Linked DNA regions of Homo sapiens. The protein of the gene in region 1 binds, or shares a complex with, the protein of each later gene. Each region holds a gene or a part of one and is shown in the gene's direction. Other genes may lie near its edges. The genes, in order: RNASEH2A and RNASEH2C.

The links.
Region 2: the proteins of RNASEH2A (region 1) and RNASEH2C are in contact, whole or in part, in a crystal structure (PDB 3PUF), measured with the Homo sapiens proteins. Residues at the interface, in NP_006388.2 of Homo sapiens: Thr11, Asn99, Ser102, Thr103, Leu106, Gly107, Arg108, Val109, Val196 (codon at 2,154), Glu197 (codon at 2,157), Lys198 (codon at 2,160), Leu199 (codon at 2,163), Glu225 (codon at 4,919), Pro226 (codon at 4,922), Val227 (codon at 4,925), Phe228 (codon at 4,928), Gly229 (codon at 4,931), Phe230 (codon at 4,934), Pro231 (codon at 4,937), Gln232 (codon at 4,940), Phe236 (codon at 4,952), Leu245 (codon at 4,979), Ala249 (codon at 4,991), Glu250 (codon at 4,994), Asp251 (codon at 4,997), Val252 (codon at 5,000), Ile253 (codon at 5,003), Trp254 (codon at 5,006), Glu255 (codon at 5,130), Asp256 (codon at 5,133); in NP_115569.2 of Homo sapiens: Pro33 (codon at 8,223), Cys34 (codon at 8,226), Glu35 (codon at 8,229), Val36 (codon at 8,232), Ala37 (codon at 8,235), Val38 (codon at 8,238), Ala42 (codon at 8,250), Pro43 (codon at 8,253), Val44 (codon at 8,256), Gly45 (codon at 8,259), Arg46 (codon at 8,262), Phe47 (codon at 8,265), Phe48 (codon at 8,268), Pro50 (codon at 8,274), Ala51 (codon at 8,277), Arg53 (codon at 8,283), Ser62 (codon at 8,479), Phe63 (codon at 8,482), Arg64 (codon at 8,485), Gly65 (codon at 8,488), Arg66 (codon at 8,491), Cys67 (codon at 8,494), Leu68 (codon at 8,497), Leu134 (codon at 8,772), Glu135 (codon at 8,775), Thr136 (codon at 8,778), Lys143 (codon at 8,799), Gly146 (codon at 8,808), Ala147 (codon at 8,811), Thr149 (codon at 8,817).

Annotation. Positions count from the first base shown.
Region 1 is NC_000019.10:12,808,200-12,816,062, forward strand, and holds the end of RNASEH2A (ribonuclease H2 subunit A), read left to right. Parts: intron 1-1,871; coding exon 1,872-2,009; intron 2,010-2,117; coding exon 2,118-2,205; intron 2,206-4,883; coding exon 4,884-5,007; intron 5,008-5,128; coding exon 5,129-5,267; 3' UTR 5,268-5,441; downstream 5,442-7,863. UniProt on the Homo sapiens protein: Catalytic subunit of RNase HII, an endonuclease that specifically degrades the RNA of RNA:DNA hybrids. Participates in DNA replication, possibly by mediating the removal of lagging-strand Okazaki fragment RNA primers during DNA replication.
Region 2 is NC_000011.10:65,717,478-65,728,884, reverse strand, and holds RNASEH2C (ribonuclease H2 subunit C), read left to right. Parts: upstream 1-8,086; 5' UTR 8,087-8,126; coding exon 8,127-8,298; intron 8,299-8,467; coding exon 8,468-8,643; intron 8,644-8,720; coding exon 8,721-8,840; intron 8,841-9,075; coding exon 9,076-9,102; 3' UTR 9,103-9,703; coding exon of another isoform or gene 9,704-9,838; 3' UTR 9,839-9,930; coding exon of another isoform or gene 9,931-10,012; 3' UTR 10,013-10,135; coding exon of another isoform or gene 10,136-10,295; 3' UTR 10,296-11,212; downstream 11,213-11,407. Other genes in the region: histone acetyltransferase KAT5, read right to left, coding at 9,704-9,838, 9,931-10,012, 10,136-10,295.

The DNA of each region.
Region 1 (7,863 bases):
TGAGATCGCGCCATTGCACTCCAGCCTGGGGGACAGAGCGAAAAATAAAAATAAAAATAAAATAAAAAATAAATGTGGGCAAAAATGTGCAGTGTGCAGATTCAGCATCAGATACGTCTGGAGTGCCTCGGGCATATTCATTGCTACTGTTGATTTCGTGCTCCTGTTTCTGCCCTAAATGTGTGCCACACTGACGACCACAGTGTAGCCCCTAGTCCCGTCTCCATCTAATCTCTCCCTCATCCTAAAGGCTCAGTCTCCAGAACAAATCCTACATTGTCTACCTGTCACCTCTGTCCTAGCCCAGGACACCCCCCACTCCCTGGACACCTGCTGAGTGTCGTCTCTCGTCCCTCACCCTCCTATCCCCTCCAATCTGTTCCCCAAGCAGCAACAGAAGGTAGTCTTTTTGAAATGCACATCTCGACATTTAGTTTTCCGATCACAGTGGAAATTAAATCAGGAAAATTCACAGTCGAGTGGGGCAGAATTACATTAAATTACCAGAGAAAAACATAAATCAGCATTGCCTCGAATGCTCTCAATGAAAGAATGGACCGTTCTGAGAGAATAACAAGGCAAAATAACCTTGACGTAGGAATTGTATGCTGGGTATGGTGGCTCACGCCTGTAATCCCAGCACTTTGGGAAGCTGAGGTGAGCAAATTGGTTGAGGCTAGGAGTTCCAGACCAGCCTGGGCAACATAGCGAGACTCCATCTCCACAAAAAGAAGAAGAAAGAAAGGAATTATAGCAAGGTAGACCCTGCTGAGGAGGGACCTGAGGACCAGGCCCAAATGCAGAGCTGGCGATACAGTAACTGGTGTAGACAGACAAGGGCCCTACCCGTAGGCGTTCAGGGCCTAGCCTGGGCAGAAAGATGGTCAGCTGGAGGTTGGGCGCAGTAGCTCACGCCTGTAATCCCAGCACTTTGGGAGGCCGAGGCGGGCGGATCATCAGGTCAGGAGTTCGAGACCAGCCTGACCAACATGGTGAAACCCCATCTCTACTAAAAATAAAAAATAAAAAAATAAAACATGAAAGATGGTCAGCTGGTAAACAAAAAATAAAGGTTGTTTCTGAAAACAGTAGTGCTGTGGAGATACCACTTTCCCCCAGCAGCTCTTGGACCCTCTCTTCGGTGCTGCAGCCAAAGGCCCCCATGCATGGGCCCAGCATCATGAACCTGGTCCCAGCTCAGGGCCTTTGTACTGGCTGTTCTCACACCTAGAGCCCTCTTCCCCAGATCTCTGCACAGTTCACTTCCTCACCTCCTTCAAGCCTTTATTCACCACTACACCTAGCTAACTTTTTATTTTTTGTAGAAACAGGGTCTCCATATGTTGCCCAGGTTGGTCTCAACCACCTGCCCTCAAGCGATCCTCCCACTTCGGCTTCCTAAAGTGTTGGGATTACAGGCTTGTGCTAACGCACTCTACCAATTTTTTTCTAGTGTTTTCTGCCACCTCAGTTCCTAGAACAGTATGTGGCATGCAGTAGGTGCTAAATAAGTTAGAGTAAAAGCAGCGTGATAGAGAAAGCCTCTTCAGGAGGTGAGTTTTTTCTTTATTTTATTGTATTTATTTTATGTTTTTATAAAGATGGGGTCTCACTGTGTTGCCAAGCCTGGCCTCAAACTCCCAGGATCAAGCGATCCTCCCGCCTCAGCCTCCCAAAGTGCTGGGATCACAGGCCTGAACAACTTTGCCTGGTCTAGGAGGAGATGTTCGAGTTGAAATCCCTGATTGATCCATCCTGGGGACGTGCTGGAGAAGAGGATTCTGGGTAGCAGGAAGAACGTGCCAGGGCTGTGAGGCTAGAGCATTGGTACAGTTGTTTGTTCAATTAATATGTGTCTGTTGCTGTGGCAGGTATTCGTGGACACCGTAGGGATGCCAGAGACATACCAGGCGCGGCTGCAGCAAAGTTTTCCCGGGATTGAGGTGACGGTCAAGGCCAAAGCAGATGCCCTCTACCCGGTGGTTAGTGCTGCCAGCATCTGTGCCAAGGTCAGTACCCTACTAGCCATGGCTGGCTTCCACCATCCCACTATATAGGGGCCAGGCATGGCCACCAAAGGGAAGGAGGGAGATTCCAGGTGCCTGTTTTGCCCACAGGTGGCCCGGGACCAGGCCGTGAAGAAATGGCAGTTCGTGGAGAAACTGCAGGACTTGGATACTGATTATGGCTCAGGCTACCCCAATGGTGAGCAGACACGTGACCATGGTACTAATGTTGAAATGGCCAGGGCTGAGCACACTTCTGAGGTTTTCTTTTTTTCCTTTCTGTCATTTATCATTTTATTTTGCTTATTTTTTGTTTTTATTTGTTATTTTTGTTTATTTTTTGAGACGGAGTTTCGCTCTTTTTGCCCAGGCTGGAGTGTAATGGTGCGATCTCGGCTCACCGCAACCTCCACCTCCTGGCTTCAAGCGATTCTCCTGCCTCAGCCTCGCGAGTAGCTGGGATTACAGGCATGTGCCACCACACCCAGCTAATTTTGTGTTTTTAGTAGAGACTAGTTTTCTCCATGTTGGTCAGGCTGGTCTTGAACTCCTGACCTCAGGTGATCTGCCTGGCTCAGCCTCCCAAAGTGCTGGGATTACAGGCATGAGCCACCGTGCCCAGCCTATTTTTTGTTTTTATAGAGATGGGGTCTTGTCATGTTGCCCAGGCTGGTCTCAAATTCCTGGAGTCAAGCAGTCCTCCCACCTTGGTCTTTCAAAGTGCTGGGATTACAGCCATGAGCCACCACCCCTGGCCCTTTTTTTCTTCTTTTTTTAAAGAGATGGGGTCTCCCTATGTTGCCCAGCCTGGTCTTGAATTCCTGGGCTTAAGTGATCCTCCTGCCTTGGACTCCCAAATAGCTAGGATTACAGGTGTGAACTACTGTGCCTGGCTGGAGGTTTTCTAAATTGCTCTGGTCACCCTACTCCACAGTGAAAGAGGCCAAGTGTTAGACAGTGGTGCCATTTGTTTATGGCCACACAGCCAGTGAGTGATAGAGCTGAATTCCAGGCCATAGGATTGCTGCTGTCTTCCCCGCTTCCCACTTTGCTGTCTTTCTGGAGCCCCAGTGATGGACTGAGACCCAAGGTGGGCATTTGTCCCTTTGTTAAGGGGAAGGGGACCAGGCGTGGTGGCTCATGCCTGTAATCCCAGCACTTTGGGAAGCTGAGGTAGGAGAACCGCTTGAGTCCTCGAGTTCAAGACCAGCCTGGGCAACATAGCGAGACCCCCATCTCTATAAAAAATTTAAAAAATTAGCCGGTTATAGTGGTGCCCACCTGTAGTCCCAGCTACTCTGGAGGAGGAGGCTAAGGTGGGTGGGTTGCTTGAGCCCAGGAGTTGGAGGCTGCAGTGAGCTATGATTATGCCACTGCACTCCAGCCTTGGTGACAAGATGAGATCTTGTGTCAAAAAAAAAAATAATGTTAGCCAGGCGTGGTGGCTCACACCTGTAATCCCAGGACTTTGGGAGGCTGAGGCAGGTGGATCCTTTGAGGTCAGGAGTTCTAGACCAGCCTGACCAACGTGGTGAAACCCCATCTCTACTAAAAATACAAAATTAGCTGGACGTGGTGGCACACGCCCGTAATCCCAGCAACTCGGGAGGCTGAGGCAGGAGAATTACTTAAACCTGGGAGGTGGAGGTTGCAGTGAGCCGAGATCGCATAATTGCACTCCAGCCTGGGAAATGAGCAAAATTCCATCTCAAAATAATAATAATAATAATAATAATAATATTTAATGACAGGCTGGGCCAGGTGGCTCATGCCCGTAATCCTAGCATTTTAAGAGACAGAGGCAGGTAGATCATGTGAACTCAGGAATTCACAACCAGCCTGGGCAATATGACAAGACCCCATCTCTACAAAAAATACAAAAATTAGGTGTGGTGGTGCGCACCTGTAGTCCCAGCTACTTGGGAGGCTGAGGTGAGAGGATGGCTTGAGCCTGGGAGGCAGAGGTTGCATTGAGCTGTGATAATGTCACTGCACTCCAGCCTGGGTAATAGAGCGAGACCCTATCTCAAAAAAATAAAAAGGCTGGGTGTGGTGTTTACACCTGTAATCCCAGCACTTTGGGAGGCTGAGGTGGGTGGATCACCTGAGGTCAGGAGTTTGAGACCAGCCTGCCTGTCCAATATGGTGAAACCCCGTCTCTACTAAAAATACAAAAATTAGCCAGGTATGGTGGTGGGTGGCTGTAGTCCCAGCTACTTGGGAGGCTGAGGCAGGAGAATCGCTTGAACCTGGGAGGCGGAGGTTGCAGTGAGCCGAGATCGCACCATTGCACTACAGCCTGGGTGACAGAGCAAGACTCCATTTCAAAAAATAAGTAAATAAAATAAAAATGTTTAATGACTTGTTCTTGGAGGTCAAGGAGATGTCTCAGAGGCAGTCTCCCTGCACTGCCCTTTTAGCAGCTCTTGGCCAGGTAAAGGTCCTGTGGCAAGAAGGTGCTTCAGACCATAGGAGGTGCCCCAGGTACTCAGGAGGAAGCCTTAGAAGAGCGGCAAGGAGGCCGGGCGTGGTGGCTCATGCCTGTAATCCCAGCACTTTGGGAGGCCGAGGGGGGTAGATCACGAGGTCAAGCAATTGAGACCATCCTGGCCAACATGGTGAAACCTCGTCACTACTAAAAACACAAAATTTAGCTGGGCATGGTGGCATGCGCCTGTAGTCCCAGCTACTTGGGAGGCTGAGGCAGGAGAATCGCTTGAATCCGGGAGGTGGAGGTTGCAGTGAGCTGAGATCGCGCCACTGCACTCCAGCCTGGCTACAGAGTGGGACTCCATCTCAAAGAAAAAAAAAAGAGTGGCAGGGAGCTTGAATGTTATGGTGCAACTTGGACTGTCACCATTGCCCACCCTACCCCAGATCCCAAGACAAAAGCGTGGTTGAAGGAGCACGTGGAGCCTGTGTTCGGCTTCCCCCAGTTTGTCCGGTTCAGCTGGCGCACGGCCCAGACCATCCTGGAGAAAGAGGCGGAAGATGTTATATGGTGGGTGTCATGGATGTCCTGGGGGTGCTATAGGGAAGGAAGGAGGGAGGCCAGCGTTCAGCCCTGCCTGAGAGGGTTGCTCCCTGTGTAAGTGGTCACTGTCATCACCTCTCTCCCACAGGGAGGACTCAGCATCCGAGAATCAGGAGGGACTCAGGAAGATCACATCCTACTTCCTCAATGAAGGGTCCCAAGCCCGTCCCCGTTCTTCCCACCGATATTTCCTGGAACGCGGCCTGGAGTCAGCAACCAGCCTCTAGCAGCTGCCTCTACGCGCTCTACCTGCTTCCCCAACCCAGACATTAAAATTGTTTAAGGAGAACCACACGTAGGGGATGTACTTTTGGGACAGAAGCAAGGTGGGAGTGTGCTCTGCAGCCGGGTCCAGCTACTTCCTTTTGGAACCTTAAATAGAATGGGTGTTGGTTGATTAATTTTATTTGGTTTGATTTTTTTCATTTTTAAATTTTATTTATTTTATTTTATTTTATTTTATTTTTTTGAGAGACGAAGTCTCACTCTGTCACCCAGGCTGGAGTAGAATGGGGCAATCTCAGCTCACTGCAACCTCTGCCTTCCAGGTTCAAGCGATTCTCCTGCCTCAATTTCCCAAGCAGCTGGGACTATAGGCGTGTGCCATGCCCAACTAATTTTTTTTTTTTTTTGAGACACAGTCTCCTGTTGCCCAGGCTGGAGTACCATGGCACAATCTTGGCTCACTGCAACCTCCACCTCCCTGGTTCAAGCAATTCCCCTGCCTCAGCCTCCTGAGTAGCTGGGATTACAGGTGCACACCACCACACCCGGCTAATTTTCTTTTCTTTTCTTTCTTTCTTTTTTTTTTAATTTGAGACAGAGTCTCACTTTGTCACCAGGCTGGAGTGCAGTGATGCAATTTTGGCTCACTGCAACCTCTGCCTCCTGGGTTCAAGCGATTCTCCTGCCTCAGCCTCCCACGTAGCTGTGACTACAGGCATGCGCCACCACACTCAGCTAATTTTTGTATTTTTAGTAGAGACGGGGTTTCACCACGTTGGCCAGACTGGTCTTAAACTGCTGACCTCAGGCAATCTGCCCGCCTTGGCCTCTCAAAGTGCTGGGATTACAGGTGTGAGCCACTGCGCCTGGCCTAATTTTTGTATTTTTTAGTAGAGACAAGGTTTCACTATATGTTAGTCAGGCTGCTCTCTACCTCCTGACCTCAGGTGATCTGCCCACCTCAGCCTCTCAAAGTGCTGGGATTACAGGCATGAGCCACTGCACCGACCTTTTTAGTTATATTTTTAATTTTTAAAAATTTTTAAATTTTCTTTCTTGAGATGGAGTCTCGCTCTGTCACCCAGGCTGGAGTGCATTGGCTCAATCTTAGCTCACTGTAACCTCTGCCTCCCAGGTTCAAATGATTCTCCTGCCTCAGCCTCCCGAGTAGCTGGGACTACAGGTGCGTGCCACCAGGCCTGGCTAATTTTTTGTATTTTTAGTAGAAACACGGTTTCACCGTGTTAGCCATGATGGTCTCAATCTTCTGACCTTGTGATCCGTCTGCTTCAGCCTCCCAAAGTGCTGGGATTACAGGCGTGAGCCGCCATGCATTGCCTATTTTTATTTAAAAAATTTTTTGAGACAGAATCTCACTCTGTCACCCAGGCTGGAGTGCAGTGGTGCGATCTCAGCTCAGTGTAACCTCCGCCTCCTGGGTTTAAGTGATTCTCCCACCTTAACCTCCTGAGTAGCTGAGGTTCCAGGCACACGCCACGATGCCCAACTAATTTTTGTATTTTTTGTAGAGATGAGGTTTCATCATGTCGCCCAGGCTGGTCTTGTAGTCCTGGGTTCAAGTGATCTGCCCGCTGTGACCTCTCAATGTGTGAGCTACCATACCTGGCTGACTAATATGTAAAATACATGATGTGGCTGGGCGCAGGGGCTCATACATGTAATCCTAGTGCTTTGGAAGGCTGAGTCAGGAGGATCTTGACCAGTCTGGACAACATAGGGTAACAAGAGCGAAACTCTGTCTCAAAAAAAAAAAAAAAAAAAAAAAAATGCTGGGCTGCATGGGGGAAGATAAGAAAAAATAAAGAAAGGTCACGAACCAAACAAAAATCTTGGCGGGCAGGGTGCCGTGTGGCTGCAGTCCCAGCTTTTCTGGAGGTTGAGGTAGGCTCCAGCATGGGCGACAGAGCAAGACCATGTCTCAAAAAAAAAAGCATATCTGCGCATTAATGTTTGGAACAAGCTGCATTCTCTCCAGAAGGACCTAGAAGGCACAGATAAGCCCACCAGTGATTTGGGGCAGGTTGGGATGGAAGCTTCTCAAATGTTCTCCCTTCTTTCTTTGGTTCTGTTTTTGTTGGTTTTATTTTGTTTTGTTTTGAGACAGAGTCTCGTTCTGTCACCCAGGCTGGAGTGCAGTGGCACAGTCTTAAGTCACTGCAACCCCCACTTCCCAGGTTCAAGCAATTCTCCCACCTCAGCCTCCCGAACAGCTGGGACTACACCATGCCCAGCTAGTTTTTGTATTTTTAATAGTGACAGGGTTTCACCATGTTGGCCAGGCTGGTCTTGAACCCCTGACCTCAAGTGACCCGCCTGCCTCGGTCTCCCAATGTGCTGGGATTATAAGTGTAAGCCACTGTGCCCAGTCTGTTTTTGTTTTCTGAGACAGGGTCTCCGTCACCCAGACCGAAGTGTTGCCATGTGATCTTGGCTCATTGAAGCTTCGAATGCCTGGGCTCACAGGGTCCTCCCACCTCAGCCCTGTGAGTAAGTGGAACTACAAGTATGCCACCACGCACAGCCAATTTAAAAAAAATGGCTGGGCGCGGTGGCTCACGCCTGTAATCCCAGCACTTT
Region 2 (11,407 bases), on another chromosome or scaffold:
ACCCCAGGGGGCCACTAGTTCTAATGCCACTCCAGTTCATGTCAGAATTAATCCTATTGATCATTCATTTCTGGTATTCCTCGGTCTTACAGGGTTTTATATGGTGACCCCCGGAAGGCCAAAGGGTGGCCAACATACACTCACCCCTGTTCCAAGTTTTTGATATACAAAGGAAAGCTACTCCTAAAAGAACAGGAGGTCCTCTGGGGAGTTAGGAGTGGTTATGGGATGTGACTTCTTCCCACTTATGACCACAAATGAAAACGAACCCATTTGGGGTGCAATAGAGGCCCTGTGAGGTGTGATGCCTATCTTTAGCCACTAAGTTGGGTCTGTGGAGATACAAGATATCTCCCCCCATTCCAACGGGGAGGACCAAACAACCCTGGTAGGGTTTTCTGGGTTTTGTTTGTTTTTTGCTTTTTGACAGTTGACAGAGCTAGCTGAGGCTTTATCTTGAAAAAACAAAACAAAACAAAACAAAACAGTGGAATTGTTTTGTGATGGAGGCATGGGCAAGGGAGTTACCCCACACAAGTGGGCTGTGGAGGAGGGCTGAGCCTCAAGTGGGTCTCCTGTTCCCTGCGCTTTCCTGCACAGCAGCCTCCCCCACAAGCTCTGGGGCAGCTGCAAGAGGGGGTAGGCTGGGAGGGACTGCCATAGTTGTTCGCTTGGGCAGGACATCAGAGGACTCGGACACCAGCTTCCCAACCATGGTCCTGGAGGAGCTGGTGCGGCTGAAGGAGCTGAAATCCCTGCCAGAGTCAAGGCTGGGGCCCAGGCCGTAGCTGAGGCCAGGGCTTGTGAGGCCCCGGGAGGCCGAGCTCAGCTGTCTACTTAAGCAGCTGCGGCGCCAGGTCCTGCTTGGCCGGCGCCAGGTCCTGCTTGGCCTGCTACAGGGCAGCCTCCAGCTCCACCAGCTCCCCACGCTGCTCAGCATCCGCGATGGCCTCTGAGGCCCTCAATCTCAGCATGGACCCCGCTGATGTTGCGGATCATCTCAGAGTTCTCCATCTTCCCGCGACGCAGGTCATCCCCGTGCTTCCCAGCCAGTGTCTGCAACTCCTCATCCTTGACCTGGTGCAGACTCTTAGCCTTGCCTGGCCGCAGTGGGCGATCTCCTCGTACTGGGCGTTGACCTCCGCGATGATGCCATCCACGTCCAGGGAGTGGCTGTTGTCCATGGACAGCACACAGACGTGTCCGAGATCTGGGACTGCAGCTTCCAGATCTCCTCTTCACACAGCTCTCTGGGGAAGTTGATCTTGTCAGTCAGCCCTTCCAGGTGAGACTCCAGCACTGCCTTGTTCATGTAAGCTCCATCCACATCCTTCTCGATGAAGGCAAATTCATTCCCCATCTCTGTCCGCTCGTTGATCTCATCCTGGTACTTATCGTTGAAGTCTTCCAGCAGCCCCTGCGTGTTGCCAAGATCTGCCTCCACCTTCAGCTTCTCCTGGCCCAGTGTCCAGCTGCTGCCCAAGGCTGTGGATGTGGCTCTCAAACACGCTGTCCATGTTGCTCCCAGCTGTCTTCTGCTGCTGCAGGATGCTCCACTTAGTCTCCAGCATTTGTTCTGCTGCTCCAGGAACTGCACCTTGTCGATGAAGGAGGCAAACTTGTTGAGGGTCTTGATCTGCTCCTTCTCCTGGGTATGCACAGCCTGGATATTGGGGTCCAGGTCCAGCTTAAGGGGGCTCAGCAGACTCTGGTTCACCATGATGGCTGTGTCGCCCACCCCCACCCCATACCACTGCCCCACCATAGCCACCACCCAGACTCATGCTGGTGCCTAGGCCACTCCAGAAGCTGCTGCTGCTGCCCACTTGGGAGAAGCTCAAGGAGCTGATGTGGGCACCGGGACCACTGGTGTAGGAGCGGCTGCTGAAGGCCCAGGGGCCAGAGATGGATGCCTTGTAGGGCTTCTGGGTCACCGTGATGGACACGATGGAGGCAGGAGTGGAGGTAGGCAGGCCGAACCAGATGTAGATTCAAGGATGGAGAAGCTTCCTCTAGGTCAGCCCTTGTTTTCCAGAAGGGGGCGGTAATCTCACCTTCCCAGATTAGGCAGTTGTTTTTTTCTCTGTATGTTCTGCTCTGGGAGAAGGCACTGTATATGGTCTCCTTGCTCACAAGTGGAATCTTATTTATCTTGCTGTGGCCTTGGGAACTTGGCAACTACAGTTGGGTCACAGCATTGTGGGGAAACTTCCACTTTTGTGTCATTAACACAACAGTGGTTGCAAAAGATAGAATCATTAGTGCCCTGGAGATCTAGATACACGCCTTGACAGAATCATGAGTGCCCTAGAGATCTAGATACATGCCTTGATAGAATCATGAGTGCCCTGGAGATCTAGACATACGCCTTCCCAGGTCCAGGCAATAGTGGTGGGGGATTTCAGGTAGAATCCATCAAGTGCACGACAGAAATTTCCACCTAATGGTCGGGGTCTGGGTACTTTGAGATTGCTATGGATGGTGAAGAGGGCTAGGGAGTTAGCCAAGAGAGTTTTTGGATCGGCCAGAAGGTGAAATTCTCTATCCTGGGGATGTTGATGACAAATCCAGCAACCATGAAGATGATTTCCTAAAGCTATAATTTTTGAAATATTTACTATAAAGTTTTGTTCCCACTTACACAGGATTAGGTTAATTGGGAGAGCAACAGGATTAACAGTGGCACATGGTATCCACCTGGGCCTTAGAGTGGCCTCTACACCCAACAAGGACAAGAGATGTTTCCTGGGAGGAGGTAGTTGCCCAAAGCGACAGAAAAGAAGTATTACAATCAGGAAGAAGAGAAAAATGTTCCCACCCACGGCGTCACGTTACCACTTATGGCTGAATATTGATTCTTTTAAATAGGTAGCAGAGGTCCTCCAAAGGTTCACAGATGTAGGTCGTGGTATCCTGCTTTTGTGCCTGTGACTCATAAGAAACAGGTTTAATCCTAGACAGGTGTACCCAACAAGTTATTCCCTGAAGTTTAGCAGCAGAGGGGATACTCAACAACACCTGATAGGGGCTCTGTCATTTCGGTTGTAATTGATCCTCAGGGGAATCTTTCTTTCCAAGTTTTTATTAAGACTAAGCCTCCTGGCCGGGCGCGGTGGCTCACGCCTGTAATCCCAGCACTTTGGGAGGCCAAGGCGGGCGGATCACGAGGTCAGGAGATCGAGACCATCCTGGCGAACACGGTGAAACCCCGTCTCTACTAAACACACAAAGAATTAGCCGGGCGTGGTGGCGGGCGCCTGTAGTCCCAGCTACTCGGGAGGCTGAGGCAGGAGAATTGCTTGAACCTGGGAGGCAGAGGTTGCAGTGAGCCGAGATCTCACCATTGCACTCCAACCTGGCTGACAGAGTGAGACTGCGTCTCAAAAATAAATAAATAAATATAAAAAAATCAGCCGGGCATGGTGGTGGGCGCCTGTAATCCCAGCTACTCGGGAGGCTGAGGCAGGAGAATCAGGAGAATTGCTTGAGCCCAGGAGACGGAGGTTGCAGTGAGCCGAGATTGTGCCACTGCACTCCAGCCTGGCTGACAGAGCGGACTCTGTCTCAAAAAAAAAAAAAAAAAAAAGGAGAGGAAAAAAATGCGTATTTCCTAGCTTTGTCCACTGGAAATATCTAGAAACAAAGGCTAACTCAGTAGCAATGAATACATCTAGTATCAGATTGGATTACTAAATATCATTTCCCACTGAAGGGAACCAGCGATCTTTGGAGAGATGTATAATTCCAAGTCTGGGGCAGGAAATGTACAAGATGAGCCAGGAACATCTTGTGGTACTGGAAAACAAAGATATGTATAAAAGATCACTAGGGTCATATCGAAAGATTCAGGAGATAACTTGAAGAGGCTTCCACTGGCAGAAGATGGGGAAATTTGCACCTCAGTAAGAATAATAACCACAATTATGTGAAACATAAAAGTGTTAATCCATTATTTATTATTTTTATTTATATTTATTTATTTAATATTTATTTAACATTTTTAAAAGGTCACCATTGGAATATGCTAGGGCAACAAATCATTATTTTAAGAACTGGAAAATAAAAGGATTTTTTTGAGATGCAGTCTCGCTCTGTCACCCAGGCTGGAGTGCAGTGGCTCGATCTCAGTTCACTGCAACCTCCACCTCCCGGGTTCAAGCAGTTCTCCTGCCTCAGCCTCCTGAGTAGCTGGGATTACAGGCATGCGCCACCACGCCCGGCTAATTTTTGTATTTTTTAGTAGAGATAAGGTTTCACCGTGTTGGCCAGGCTGGTCCCGAACTCCTGACCTCAAGTGATCCACCCACCTCAGCTTCCCAAAGTGCTGGGATTACAGGTGTGAGCCACTGTGCCCGGCCTAATTATTTTGTCTTTCTTATCCTCACTGTACCAACAGGCAATCAAATGGCTGATGGGGAGAGTTTTTCTTTATAGACCTATTTCAGCTAGTAAATGAAGAAGAAATGAGAGGACTTAGAATATCAGTTTTAGGCTGGGCACCATGCCTCACGCCTGTGATCCCAGCACTTTGGGAGCCCAAGGGAGGGGAGCAGATCACTTGAGGTAAGGATTTGGAGACCAGCCTGGCCAACATGGTAAAACCCCATCTCTACTAAAAATACAAAAATTAGCCTGGCATGGTGGCATGCGCCTGTAATCCCAGCTACTCAGGAGGCCAAGGCAGGAGAATTGCTTGAACCCGGGAGACAGAGGTTGAGCTGAGTGAGCCAAGATCGCGCCACCGCGCTCCAGCCTGGGCTACCAGGTGAGACTCTGTCCCAAAAATATGTGTGTGTGTGTGTGTGTGTGCGCGTACACACGCGTTTTAACCTCTAATGAATTAAAGGATCTAGGCAATGATCATCTATGGCTGCTAACCTCACAAAAAGAGGGAAAAACACAAAACCACCCATGAAGTAGTCTTGCCCTCTCCCCTCCCCAAAGAATCGAATTAAGCTTCTAGATGTAATTACAGAAAATACAGGTATAGATTACCTTGACACTATAGGAATGCAATTACTAATATCCAGACTACAGGAAACTTGCAAAACCAAAAACATAAAAATAAAAAATAAGATCCAACATCTACTCCCAATTTTTAAAAGCTCTTAGTAGTACAGCTTTAATGAGACATATATAACAAGTCAAAAGGCAGTTTCATGATTATTGGTGAAACAGCAGAAGCACTCCCGTGAAAGTTTCAGGAAAAAGACAATGTTGTCCTCTGATACCAGTAACATTTGAGAGACTGTTCTGCAAGTACTGGCCAAGGCAATTAGAAAAGAAAACAAATTACAAGGTGTAATGAAAAAAAAAAAACAAAAAACAAAAAACAAAAAGAAGATGTAATGGTGAGGTAAAAATTATTATTTGAAAGAGAGGTGACTAATTCTGGGGATCTTAAAATAAAATAAAAATCATTAGGAACAAAATAATTCAGTCGATATCTAGTTTAAAAATGGACATATAAAAATCAACAGGTTTGCTATAGACAAGGGGTCTGAAAACTATGGCCTGTGGTTCAAATCCAACCCCTTGTCTGTTTCTGCAAAGATTTACTGGAACACAACAACGCTCATTCATTTATGTATTGTCTATGACTGCTTTCATGCTATAACGGTGAAGTTGAGTAGCTGCGACAGAAGCCATAAAGTCCACAAAACCTAAAATATTTACTATTTGACCCCTTACAGAAAAAGTTTGCCAACCCCTGCTATAGATTAAAAAGAAAATCAGTTAGAAAATAAAATGAAAAAAATAAAAGCCCCAATTTTGGTTTTTAGAGAAAGGGTCTCCCTCCGTAACCCAGGCTGGTGTGCAGTGGTGCAATCGTGACTCGAACGGCAGCCTCAAACTCCTTGGCTTAAGTGATCTTCCCACCTTAGCTTCTTGAGTAGCTGGGACTACAGGCACATGCCACTGTGCCCCACTCATGTTTAAAAAAATTTTTTTCTTTGTAGGAACGGAGTCTTGCTATGTTTCCCAGGCCGGTCTCAAACTCCTGGCTTCAAGCAATCCTCCCCCATCTTGGCCTCCTAAAGCACTGGAATTACAGGTGTGAATCATCATGCCCAGCCCCTCAGTTCTTAATAGAAACAATTATTAATATAAGCTAAGAAGAAATAAACTTTACAATATGTATTAATAGCTATTATATATGAACAAAACCTCACAACTGTACAGATATCCAAGGAGATGTGAATAAATTGAATTATGTCTTTCCTGATAGAAAACTAAAGCAAGCCTTTTTCTAAATTAATCTGCCACTCTAGTGAAAGAGCACCAGGAATACATCTGCAGTTGAACAAATTGGGTATATTACTCCTGCACTCTGGGGAATTTCAATAAGAGGGTGCTAGAAAGGACTTATAGGAGGATTTGTGCCCATGTTCAGTGATTTCAGTCAGGGTTTAGGGAAGCCAGGCTTCTCTCTGGCTTGGATGCTGTCAGAGGTGGGGGTATGTCTATGACGGACTATCTTAATGAGTCTTGCCCAGAAGGAGAGAAGATTAGTTGGAGGCTAATGCTGTAATTGGTAAGGAAACAACAGTCACTCTCTTATGGGAGAAAGAGGGATGTTTCATGCCTTTTGTGGTTTGGACAGTGTTCACCTTTGCCAGCATTCAGATGTGACGATGGAGTGGTTCTGTTTCTGTCTTGCTCCCTCACGGTCACAGAGTGACCTTGTCCGATGCTGATGTTCTCTGAAATTGTTTATATTCAACAGAATACCAAGGCCAGCTCCCAGATGTGCAGGGATGTATAAATTAAACGCAATTTAAATCTAAATTTCCAGTTTTGTGTTTGTTTTATGTGAGAACTTGAAAAAATATATCTAAGTTGGGTGTCTGAACAAATAAACATTAGAGAAGAGCTGAGAAACCAAAGAGAGAAAATTGTGAAATCTAAAAGACTGAAAAGTGTTGATAAATTTGACTACAAAAAATTAGTCTTTGTCCTGGGTGCAGTGGCTCACGCCTGTAATTCCAGCGTGATTTGGGAGGCCAAGGTGGGCAGATCACTTGAGTCCAGGAGTTCAAGACCAGCCTGGGCAACATGGCAAAACTCCACCTCTACCAAAAATACAAAAATTAGCTGCGTGGTGGCGCAGGCCTGTGGTTCCAGCTACACAGGAAGCTGAGGATGGGGGATGGATTAAGCCTGGGAGGTCGAGGCTGCAGTGAGCCAATCAAACCACTGCACTCCAGCCTAGGCGAGTGAGACCTTGTCTAAAAGACCAAACAACCACAAAAATAAGTCCTTGTCCAGCAAAAATCACCTTTACACAGGTTTGCAAGACAGACCACAGATAAAACATTTTCAATGCATTTAAGAAAAGGGTTGATGTCCCTAATAAACTAAAAATGAATAACCTACCTACTAATCAATATAAAAAGAGTACTTTTCAGAATCGTTTTAGATTTTTACAACGACATGTGCCATTAAAAACAATAAAAGAAAAAAACCCGGCTGGGGGCGGTGTCTCACGCCTGTAATCCAAGTACTTCAGAAGGCCGAGGCTGGAGGATCGCCTGAGGTCAGGAGTTCGAGACCAGCCTGGCCAACATGGCGAAACCCAGTCTCTACTAAAAATACAAAAATTAGGTGGGCATGGTGGTGTGCGCCTGTAATCCCAGCTACTCCGGAGGCTGAGGCAGGAGAATCGCTTGAACCCGGGAGGCGGAGGTTGCAGTGAGCTGAGACCGTGCCTGGCACTCCAGCCTGGGCGACAAAACGAGACTCTGTCAAAAAAAAATAATAATAAATAAGAAAAAGAAAGAAAGAGGGAAGGACGGGAAGGAAGGGAAGGGAAGGGGGGAAGGAAGGGAGGCAGGGAGGAGGGGGAGGGGGGAGGGGGAAGGAGGGGGGAGGGGGAAGGAGAGGGGGAGAGGGGAGGGAGGAAAGAGGGGAGGGGGGAAGGAAGGAAGGAAAAAAACAAAACACAACTGGAAAACCCTAGGACTTGAACCCAGGGAAAGCGTTAGGGGGTAAGGGGACTACACTTCCCGTGAAGCTCCGCGGCGGCTTCCCGTGAGGCCCCGCGGAGGCTTCCTGAGAGGTCCTGCGCGCTTTCCGCGCCAGCTTCAGTGTCAGCTCGCGAGCCCTGGCGTCGCGTAGGAGGGAGGATGGAGAGCGGCGACGAAGCGGCCATCGAGAGGCACCGCGTCCACTTGCGCTCCGCCACATTGCGCGACGCCGTACCCGCCACACTGCATCTGCTGCCCTGCGAGGTTGCGGTGGACGGGCCCGCCCCGGTGGGGCGCTTCTTCACGCCCGCCATCCGCCAGGGCCCCGAGGGTGAGCCCTGCGGCCGGACTACGGCTCCCGGCAGCCCCCGCGCCGGCCTGCGCGCTTCTCATCGCCTGGGCTCCTGGGGATCGTGGTCCGTCCGGAGGTGGCGGGAGGGCAGCTCCGGGCTCGACCCAGCGTGGGTCCTGCCTGAGGCCCTTTGCGCCTCCCGCTCCAGGACTCGAAGTGTCGTTTCGGGGCCGCTGTCTACGGGGAGAGGAGGTGGCGGTGCCGCCTGGCCTCGTGGGATACGTGATGGTGACAGAAGAGAAGAAGGTGTCGATGGGGAAGCCAGACCCCTTGCGGGATTCCGGGACTGACGACCAAGAGGAGGAGCCGCTGGAGCGGGACTTCGTGAGCAAAGGGATAGGGTTGAAAGGGGGTGCGGGCGGGAGCTGTAGTCCCGATGCTGAGCCAGGCCCCTTCCCCAGGACCGCTTCATTGGAGCCACTGCCAACTTCAGCCGCTTCACCCTGTGGGGTCTGGAGACCATCCCTGGCCCGGATGCCAAAGTGCGTGGGGCCTTAACTTGGCCCAGCCTTGCGGCAGCGGTGAGTAGACGAGGAGTTCCGTCTTGCCCCCGGGTGGATGGGCTGGGGAGCACAATTGCGCAGACGGAGCCTGGAGGATTCTACTGGGTAGTGTGTGGGAAGCGTAGCTCCCTGACCACTCTTCCTAGCATGTCTAGAAGCGGTTATTCTGAACAGCTGGGTCCTTCCTCGGGTATGGGGGCCAGCTTGCCGCCCTGTCTTACAAGTCCAACAGTAGAGGCGACTCCTGTTGCAGATTCACGCACAGGTGCCCGAGGACTGAGAACCAGAGCTTGAAATTCAAAGCTGCGATCCCTTCACAGCAGTAAACCAGCTCTTTGGAACCGATTCCATCACCCCAATAAAGGAGCTCTTCACAGCACCTGTGAGTCTGGGCGCCTTAGAGCCCCTAAGCCAGCATGGGCCCTTTCCCCCTCCCCACCAAGAACTTTGCATGGCTCTGGCATATAGAAACAATTTATTGCCGGGGGCAATAGGGGTAAGAGAAGCCAGAAATTTTTGCAGCCAGCACCCACCCCACCCCCAACTTCTACTTTACAAAAGAAATTTTTACAATCACCAGCCCTCTGTACAGAGCTCCCCCATCCGGATCCCTTCTCACTGTACACAGCTGCCTGGCTCCCTCTGGTCCCTGCTTCAGAGGAGGCCTGGGCCTGTGGCCAGCTGACCTTGGAGTTGGTCTGAGCCCGGAGCTCGCCTTGGTGCTGGGCACCAGTGGGCCCCTGCCAGGCCTGTCCTCTCCTTTTTGAGCTGTCCTCAGCCCCATCTCCCTTAGAGTGCTTTGTGGGAGCTGCAGTGGGGGCGGGGTGGGCTATCAGCCCCAGTCCTGCTGCCGTCTTGGCACTGCAGTGGGCAGTGTCTGGTCACCACTTCCCCCTCTTGCTCCAGTCCTTGGGAGTGAAGTGCAGACACTTGGAGTCGATCCGCAGGAGCCGCTTGAGCATGGCCCGCTCATGGCCATCCACGATGTCCTCTGACAGTGTGAGGATGTACTGGCCCTGGGCAGAGGAGATGGGTTCAGCAGGTGGTCAGCCCACAGAGGACTGCACTCTGCATCCCACACACCTGTCTCCCCTGCCTGCCTCCCTACCTTGTAGTAGTTGATGAGATTGAGGTACTGCAGAGTGGAGATGACATCCTCCTTCTTGATGCTGGTGATTTCACTAATCTCACTGTGGGAGAGCACAGGTCAGGTTCCCTGAGGACCTTTATCTGTCCCCAGGAGCCCTGAGAGAGAAAGCCCAGGAACAGACAAGCCATGCCATGTACCCCCAGGTAGACAGCGCCAGGCTCACTTGATGGTGATCTGTGGCCTCTCCCCGCTCTCCGACTTCAGCCCCATCAGGATCTCCAGGATGGTCTGGGACCAGTAGCTTCGATAGGATAGGAGGCCAAGGTCTGAGAGGGGCTTCTCAGGGGTCCCTGTTTTCCCTTCCACTTTGGAGAGTTCATAGCCTAAAGCAATGGAGCAGGAGAGGGTGAGTAAGAGGTCACAGATGAACATAAGCAACATTTAAAAACACAGGTTGCCAAGGCAGGCTGCCTAGTTCCTATCATGGCCCTGCCACTTGGCAGTTCTATGCCCTCCACTTCTCTGTGCCTCAGTTCCCTCAGGAAGAACTGAGTATTCACTCTTTCCGTGCGCTGAGCACAGTGGAGGGCATGAGGGCACTGAGAGGAGCAGCTGCAGTCAACCATGAGGGTGATCAGAGGCCAGTGAAGGCTTATGGGCAGGGGATGCAGAGAAAATGGCTCATGGGAAGAAGGGGCCTCCAATTTTCCTTTGCCATCCCGGGCTCTGTGTCTAGCCATGTAAGGAAGTGGAGACAGATTCCTGTCTCTAATCCAGACCTGAGAATGCTTGAATTCTCAAAGTCCTCCTAGCTGGGACCTTGGGAGTGTCACCTGCTGTAAGACTTGAGTGGCCTGACTGGGTGGTTGTGAGGATGCAAGGAGAAAAGGTGCACCAAGGTGCTTCCTAAGTCGGGGAGACCATTCCTGGGAGCCACGTGACTGACCCCCACCATGGCTCTTTCCCTCCAACTCGTGCTGATAGCTGGCCGCTGGGAGGCCGTCCCCAGTGAGATCCTCAGACCCTGCACAGCCCTGAGTGGCTTCACATCTCTTGGTCAGTGTCTTCATTCTCCCCAGTCAGGGACCTGGGATGTTTGTTACTTCTAGAAGCCCTTCCTCACCCTCATAATGGACCTTAGCCCCTTGCTGGTCCCACTCACATCCCGTCTCCATTGCTGTCTGAGTTCCAAGACTGAGTTTCTTCAAGCATCCACTTGTGCTACCAGGCTGAGAAGTTCTGAGGATGTGACCCCATCTGGGCATCATTTAACCAATAAAATTTCTCGAATGGACCATAACCTTGATCAGGTAAAGCCTCTGTGTCTTCACCAGGTCAACAGCTAGAACTTCCTCCTTGTTTCTCAGGTCAGAGCTTGGTTATTCCAAGTGAGTGGTGAGACAGACAGAATGGGGGGTGATGGGGAGTAAGAGGCTGGGAAGAAGGGGCCTCAGGGTTGGGGAGGGCACTGAAGAGCCCATGTGTGATGAAGTTC